Linked DNA regions of Homo sapiens: region 1 is linked to region 2. Evidence: fine-mapped expression QTL. Tissue or cell type: whole blood. Region 2 holds a variant in brackets; the other region holds the start of a gene. All regions are shown on one strand. Distances are from middle to middle.

Region 1 (4,216 bases), 41 kb after region 2:
AATTTAGATGTCATAGAATTCACCTATTTAAAGTGTACAATTCAAAGAGTCTAGTAAATTTAATCAATTGTGCACCCATTACCACAATCCAGTTTTAGAACAATTCCAACATATACTTTGCATTTGACCAGCTCCATACTGAACAAATTTATTGGATAATTAACCTGTGCATTTTAAGCCATCTAAATCTAGGACCCAGCCTAGACATTATTTTGAATAAATCAAGCTTTAAGGAAAAACAAACTCTAAACTTTACTCAAAATAGAGATCCATAAAGCACATTCTCCCAAGGTCTCTCCGGGGGTCTGTAGGCTAATTAACAATATAAATTTAAAATATAAATTAAGAATAAAAATTAATACACATACACCAATACATGTGTATATTTTGAAAAGTGTATGTTGTATAATTCATTATTATTTATTTCAATAGGCATAAGTTTTTTTTTAAGAGACAAAGTTTCACTCTGTCACCAAGGCTAGAGTGCAGTGGCACAATCACAGCTCACTGTAGCCTCAAACTTGTGGGCTCAAGCCATCCTCCCACCTCAGCCTCCTGAGTAGCTAGGACCGCAGGTGCCCACCACCATACTCAACGGGCATAAAAATTAATTTTAAAAATGTTTCCAGTTATGACCATCTTTCGTCCAATCTCAAACTTATTTTTTTCAATCTTGTAAATATGATGAGGTGGAATAAGTTGTCCAGGGACTTAACATTTTGATCTAGTATATTTTTAATTTATGGAAGAAATATTCCTCCTGTCTGTGATTTGGCTGTGCACACTTTTGTGAGGTTGGACTGGAGATACCGACTTGGGTACTTGCAGAGGAGGAGCTTCTTCCTTAACGGGATATTTAAGAGGCCCCGATTTTGCCTTGTTTCGAAAATTATTCAAGAAATAATTAATTACCATGCCCCTCTTTCTGCAAATCCTGTATTCATGGTATACTACCTCCAATACAGCATCTATTAAACATGTACAAATACATCATTTGCAAGAATAACAATCTTGGAATAATGAAAATGCTTCTACCTATTTGTTGTTCCTGTCTTATCTCTAAGTTCATCTAAGTTTCGGAAGGGTAGTTATGTATAAAGGAACTTCACTTTGGAAATTCCATTTTTCTCTAGTCCTAGAGAGTTACTGCTAACTCCATTCATTTTGACATTTAAATACTATTTTATATTGTTATTTAAGTGTTCAACATGTACTAGTTCAGTCTCCTCAAAATACTGAGTAAGTTCCTTGTGCTTAGAATAGTTGTTTCAAACTTTGTGTGTGTGAATGAATGAATTTTACATTTCTCAAGCACCTAGTCCACAACGGGCACAAAAAAGCTATTTAGTAAGTACTGTTTAATTAATAAATGATACCTCAGGTTTGTCTCCCTTCCTCCGGATCCCCATAACATGTACATTTATCACATCGCCCAGATTTCCTAGACATTACAGATTTTCTGTTCTACGGCCCCCATAAGAACAGTGCAGGTGCCACACCATATGTCTGGGACATATGGTCCTCAATAGCTGCAATATGAAACTATTTCTATTGCAATAAATCTAATATCTATTCCTCTCTGTTTACTAATAGTTTTGATTACAACTTCAAATTTTAAAAATCGAGGATGAAGTTAAATAGAAGGGAACTGTCCCCTTTCTTCTATTTAACCTCGTCTTCGATTTTTAAAATTACAAAAGCATAATAGTAAAAAAAAGTTTGACAATACAAAATGATAAAGTAAAATTCGCCTTCACCAAAAGTCATCTATTTCCCCTTCTGTGGTTTCCACGTTGCGGCTGGTAACTCGGGGCTTCCACGCTGGGCGAGCCTAGAGAACATCCAGTACACACAGGAAGCAGCAGCGCGGGCCAAATGGCGCTGAGACCTGCGCACCTGTCCACGGACCGCCCACTCGCCAACTCTGACCTTGGGTGAGTCTCTCAAACTTGAGTCTCGGAATCTTCCACAAAATGCTACCCATCTCACCAGGTCGAGTGAGGAGGGTCGTGTTATGTGTAAGCACTTTGTGAAATCTAAAGCACGAGGCAAACGTAAAGCATTGTAGGGGGTCCTAGAGAAGTCTTTGTGCCTGCCTATCAGAGCCGTTTCAGTTCCCCGCAGCAGCTTCCAAGGACCTCCCACCATGCCCGCCGCTTCGGCTCCTGCACTGCAAATCTCGCGGCTCGGCCTGCAGCGGCGGCTTCCCCTGGCCTCCCACCCCAGCGACTGAGCGCGGAGCCCAGCGCGCACGAGCGCCAGCCTGGCTCAGAGACACCCACGAAGCCAGGGCCTTTCAGCGCCTGCTAACTGGCGCTACCCCTAGGGCCGCCTCTCGGTTTTAAACGTAAACAAGAGTTGCCCTTCCGTCTTCCAAGACCTGCAAATCGAAGCTTCTTTTCCTCCAGAAGCCCCGCCACCTTCTAAGCTTCTCCCCAGCCTCAGCCACGCCCCAGCCTGCAAAAGCCGGGTCCTTTACGCCCCCTGGCTCCGTATTTGATTTCGGCGCGCGCCATACCTGAGGGCAGCTGTGATTGGTTGGAGGTGAGCGAAGTTCCTATATGATTGGCTGATAGCGGCTAGGACGGGTGAAGGCCAAGGGCGGAGAATTATGGGAGGGATTAAGACTGCAAGAGCTGAGTGATGGTTGGTTCCTGAACAAAGAGGGCGGAGTAAAAGGCGGAAGCAGAATTGGGGGCGGGGCTTTGTGGAACTTGGGGGACCCAGCGAAATGGAAGAAGTTAGGTGTCCAGAGCACGGTAAGGGGCTAGGGTCTCAGCGTCCCGGGGCCTGTTGATTTAGCGTGGCGTAATCGTTGTTCACTTTCTTCTCTCTTCAGGGACTTTCTGCTTTCTTAAGACCGGCGTCCGCGATGGCCCGAATAAAGGAAAGAGCTTCTACGTGTGCCGGGCAGACACGTGCAGCTTCGTGCGGGCCACCGAGTAGGTCTGGAGCTGGGCCCCACTCCCTGTGGCTGCCCGGGGCCTCCCGAGAGGAGCTTCCCGCTCCCCGCTGTCGGGCGTCACAGGGCCGAGGAGTGGTGGGGCCCTAGTTTGCGGTGTCAGGACCCTTTAAGCAATTGGTGATCCCAGGGCAGCGTGGCGTGTTCGGAAGACGCCCAGCTAATTCTGGCTGTGTGACCCGAGGCTGGTTACCCCCCTCTCTGGGCCGATGGTTCCCCTACCTGTAAAATTGAGGATCCGGTGTTTTCCAGCTCTGGGTTTCTATTCACTTGACAGGCCTTAACCACTCCCTTCTCCTGCCCAGACAGTCCCTCCCCCTTTAAAGGAGTAAGGACACACAGCAGACATAGTGGAAAATAATTTGTCCCTGTTTTGCACTAGTTTTAGGCCCGACGGTTTTTTTTAAATGTTTGAGCTTAAAACACTCTAGTGATTAGTTGTTAGCCTTCTTATTTTTAAGTAGGATTCTCTGCATCTAAATGGTGAAATTGATAATTCAAAGAAATTAGCGCTGGAAGAAACAACGGAGGGCCTGGCGCGGTGTGTGACGCCTGTAATCCCAGCACTTTGGGAGGCGAAGGCGAGCGAATCGCTTGAGCCCAGGGGTTCGAAACCAGCCTGGGCAACATGGTGAAATCCCGTCTCTACGAAAAATTAAAAAAAATTGTCTAGGCATGGTATCACACGCCTGTAGTCCCAGCTACTCGTGAGGCTGAGGTGGGAGGAGAGAGTCAGAAATGTTAAGCATCTTCTCTAAAGTGAGGAAAGTTAATAGTTTGTCAAGTGTTAATGTTTTCACAGTACCAAGTGTCTACATTTTCTATGTGAATTTTAAAACTATCATCACATCATTAAACATCTCCTGCTCTCTATTCAGCAAAACTTGGTAGAGAAAAGTTATTTTTCTCCGTGTCAGATGTAGAGTACATAATGGATATCAGTATTAGAAAAGTGCCCTTTCAACATGTATACTAACTTCCCATGTTTCTGTTTCATGAGTTAGATGATTTACACTGAGCCTCTCAGATATAGTACCCAGGTCAAGTTTTGTGAGATAGAAGCATTTTTACCTTTGCAGGAATTCAACATTAATGGTGGCATAAGATTTGGTTTTACATTAAGAGAAACACTCTTATTTAGGATCCCATCTACACAAATGCTTTGCTATACAAACTAGCACAGTGGTATTTGAAGACAATTATTTGATAAACTTGATTTATTTGGACTATATCTGATAACCAATATACAGGCCA
Region 2 (4,216 bases):
CTAAAACAGTTTTGTTCTTCTATAATCTGTAACTCACAGCAAGAAGTGTGGTCATGTCTACCAAGAACAAGCAGCAAGTTGTGTGGGAAGGAGAGACACTCGCCTTTCTCTGTAAGGCTGGTGGAGCTGAAAGTCCCCTGTCTGTGAGCTGGTGGCACATCCCACGGGACCAGACACAGCCCGAGTTTGTGGCTGGCATGGGGCAGGATGGCATTGTGCAGCTGGGTGCCTCCTATGGGGTACCCAGTTACCATGGCAACACAAGGCTGGAGAAAATGGACTGGGCCACCTTCCAGCTGGAGATCACCTTCACTGCCATCACAGACAGTGGCACATATGAGTGCAGAGTATCTGAGAAGTCTCGGAACCAGGCCAGAGATCTGAGCTGGACTCAGAAGATTTCAGTTACTGTAAAGTCTCTGGGTAAGTGTCAAAGGAAGTCCTTTTCTGCACCTGTATATCACTCAATTCATTCTGCAGTGGAACTGGATTGCGTGTTATCCTGAATCCCCCAGTGATGGTATGTGTACCCTAGGACACAGAGCTAGTCTCTGGCTACCCTCTCTGTCAATTAATCTTTAAAGATTCTTCATTTTTGTAAAGATCATCTTTAGAGTGCAACTTGTAAATTGTTGTTCAAGGTTAAAAACAAAATCCTATGGATCAGCTTATAGACGAGTATAGCTGAGCCTCTTACCTTCTGGCTTTTGACAGCTGTGGCCCTGGGATTGCAGAGCCCATTGAAGCATGTGCAAAAGGGTTCTGATACTGAACCCACGCATGGGGGTAAGGGAAGGAGGCCAGACGACTAGGGTGGGGAGTGCTCCACCCACTCAGCAGCAGCTGTCTAAGTAGCAGATTGGAGAAACACTGCCTATTTGTTGTGGCTGCTGGGAACAGTCTTAGAAAAGGATCAACTTTGCAAAATTGAGGTCACAGTTCAGGACAGACTGTACTGGGAATCAATTTCTACTCTATAAAATAGGAAACTCCAAATGTACAAATGCATGGTCCTAGTCAAAGAGGTGGCAACTAGAAAAACTTGAAAGTGCTATATTTTAATCTGGTAAATATATTAGAAATTCTGTTTCATTTTTCTGTCTAGAGTCAAGTTTACAAGTTAGTCTGATGAGCCGTCAGCCGCAAGTGATGTTAACCAACACCTTTGACCTGTCCTGTGTCGTGAGGGCCGGTTACTCTGACCTCAAGGTGCCACTCACTGTGACGTGGCAGTTCCAGCCAGCTAGCTCTCACATCTTCCACCAGCTTATTCGAATCACCCACAATGGCACTATTGAATGGGGGAATTTCCTATCCCGGTTCCAAAAGAAGACGAAAGTGTCGCAGTCTTTATTTCGTTCACAACTCCTAGTCCATGATGCCACTGAGGAAGAGACAGGAGTGTATCAGTGTGAAGTAGAAGTTTATGACAGAAATTCCCTATACAACAACCGCCCCCCGAGGGCTTCTGCCATCTCTCACCCACTGAGGATAGCCGTCACTTTACCAGGTAAGTGTGACTTGAAATTAATCCCTGTTTTAAAAACAAACAAATAGCAATCCTCCCATTTTGGGTAAGTTATAACAATAAAACATAAAATACTTTCTCCCATATTTGTTCTATCTAAGTAAGCACCACATGATGAATGATACCCAGGTTAACATTGAGTTAGTATGCATGGGTTGGCCATACTGGTTGTTAAAACATTGAAATACCTTCCATGCTGGCTAATTGCTGCTCTCTACCCATTCCCCATTTTCCCCTAAGTTCCCACCACCCAGCAACTAAAGGGTACCACGTGGCACAGCAGGGGGCCTCTAGGACCTGGCTAGAGGGGAGAAGAAATGTTTTGGATTAGTCACTGTCCAGGCCTTACCAGTTAGTAAACATTTGCAGTGTCTCTGCTAGTGGTAGGGATAAGGTAAATTCCACTGGAATACATCCACCTACTTCTTTGTAAGGTGTTAATGTATAAGAGTCAGAGAATTTATTATTACAATCAAATATAATCCATCTCATCAACTGATAATAGAGCATAGGAGTTAAAAGTGAGATACTACCTAGGCAAAGTTCTGCTGTGTCATGTATCTTCTCTCTTATAGTTTGCATTCTCTTAGGAA[G/T]AGTGATGGAGAGACGTTGGAGTCATTTAGATCTGACAGTCACTGGATAGCAGAACAGCTTTGGATGAGACACTTAATCTGCTGAAGCCTTAGTTACCTGATCTGTAAATTGTTAATGTGCAATTTAAATATGGTGACATATATAACATGCCGAGTACCTGACACACCAAGATGACGCTCAAACGTGGTCACTGTCATTATTCTCTCTGCTGCTGTGCAACATTTTTGGTAATAGTAATGATCCCCTTGTTCATGAATTCATGCTTAATTAATTTGTCCTCTCTGTGGTATTTGCAATTGCTGCCCCAATCTGTCTTCTTGAAACTTCTTTTTTCCTTGGCACCATGACACAAGATTTTCATTTTCTCCTCCACTGATTTATTCTTTAAAGAAAACAGTTTCTCTGGATTCTATTCTTAGCTTTGTTCTCTTTTCATTCTATACGCTCTCCTGCAGTGGACTCGTCCCTACCCATGGATACAAGCTGTATGTTCACAACTCCCACATTCATTATCTTGACCAATTTCTCTTCTGATCTCCAGACTCGTATATCCAGCTGTCTCCAAGACATGCCTGCACTCATTATGTCAAAACATAAACCCACCATTATCATCCAAAGCTCTTTCTTCTGCATTGCCCCTTATGTCCCCACTCCTCACCAGTGACCCAAGTTGAAAACCTGAGTCATCACAACTCTTATGTTCACCTTGTATCTAAACTCCCACAGTGTGACATGCAAGGTCCTTTATCATCTGGTACATTTGTGTCTTTCCAGCATCATCTCCTTCAACTTTCCATCGTGAATTTGAGCTTCAGCCACACTGAATTACTGGCAGCTCCTCAATTGTCCATGTTCCCTCTCACTCTCAAAGTCTTTGATCTAGTTGCATCTTTTGTGTGGCAATCCTTAACCTCTTCTCCATCGGAATAATTCCTATAAACCCTTAAGACTCAGCTCAGAATTATCTCCTCCAGGAAGTCTCCCCTCACTCCTGTATTTGGGCTAGGAGACCCTGCTGTGTGCTCAGATAGGCACTTCTATATACCTCTGTCTTACATGAGGGACATGAGGAACAAAAATTTTACACTGAGGCCAGGTGTGGTGGCTCACACCTGTAATCCCACACTTTGGGAGGCCAAGGCGGGCAGATCACCTGAAGTCAGGAGTTTGAGACCAGCCTGGCCAACATAGTGAAACCCCGTCTCTACTGAAAATGCACAGATTAGCCAGGCATGGTGGCGTGCACCTGTAGTCCCAGCTACTCAGGAGGCTGAGGCACAAGGATCGCTTGAGCACAGGAAGTGGAGGTTGCAGTGAGCCAAGATCATGCCACTGCACTCCAGCCTGGGCGACAGAGCAAGACTCCATCTCAAACAAAACAAAACAACCAAAAATCTCACACTTGAGAAAGGTTTCTCAAGAGTTATTTCAGCTGCACATTCTAAATGTGGAAGACAGTGATCAGGGCAAATATCACTGTGCTGTGGTAGAATGGCTCTTTGTCTACAAATGGCACTTGGCACCATCTCTAAGCCTCTGTCCCTGCACTTGTCTCCCTCTAGAGTGTGAGCCACTGAGGGAAGATATCCACAGGGCCTGGAATTGTCTGGCACATAATATAGTGTGTGCTTCATAAATATTTGTTGAAGGAAGAGTAAAGGGACCTATGGGCAACATCAATAAGCAGTTAAAAAAGTAGAGTGGGTGATGTCAGCAAGATGCTAGAAGAAGATTTGGGAACAAGGATTGTCACTCATCTTTCTGACAAAGCAGAAAAGCTGCTGGGGTCAAAGATTAGTTGGCTCCATATCTATACAATGTTCCCACAGTTAAGTGACTGCAAAGACACACACAGTTTTAATCACTCATGTACAACTTCCTTTTGTTTACCCACGTTTGAAGGCAGATACAACTAGAGTTTGGAAATTGTGAATCCAGAAGTACTCTGCATAGTAAACACACAAACACAGCATTAATAGGGCCACTTTCTCCCAATCTGATACATGAAATATGACAGAAGAGATGCTTGTGCTTAAATACCGAAGCAGTATCATGTGGAAGAGAGATACTGGGCTTGTCTGTGTGACACTCCCT

What was found. PIP is the estimated chance that this variant, and not a neighbour inherited with it, causes the effect.
Region 1: CD101-AS1 starts here. The variant in region 2 is fine-mapped to the expression of CD101-AS1 in whole blood (INTERVAL, PIP 0.95).

The regions. Positions count from the first base shown.
Region 1 is chr1:117,057,616-117,061,831 of GRCh38, forward strand. CD101-AS1 (CD101 antisense RNA 1) reads right to left here and starts at 1,875. Exons shown (of 4, transcript NR_110786.1): 1 at 1,758-1,875. It overlaps TTF2 (transcription termination factor 2), which reads left to right and starts at 2,711. Exons shown (of 23, transcript NM_003594.4): 1 at 2,711-2,759; 2 at 2,840-2,942. The coding sequence starts at 2,732. RefSeq lists a silencer at 1,782-1,831 and an enhancer at 2,252-2,411.
Region 2 is chr1:117,017,051-117,021,266 of GRCh38, forward strand. CD101 (CD101 molecule) reads left to right here. Exons shown (of 10, transcript NM_001256106.3): 5 at 40-423; 6 at 1,106-1,510. LOC124904386 (a long non-coding RNA gene) reads right to left here. Exons shown (of 2, transcript XR_007066499.1): 1 at 2,062-4,216; 2 at 1,043-1,384. Among named protein-coding and RNA genes, the nearest start is that of CD101, 17 kb to the left of the region's middle. RefSeq lists an enhancer at 582-1,781. The variant G/T (reference allele first, on the strand shown) is at 2,122.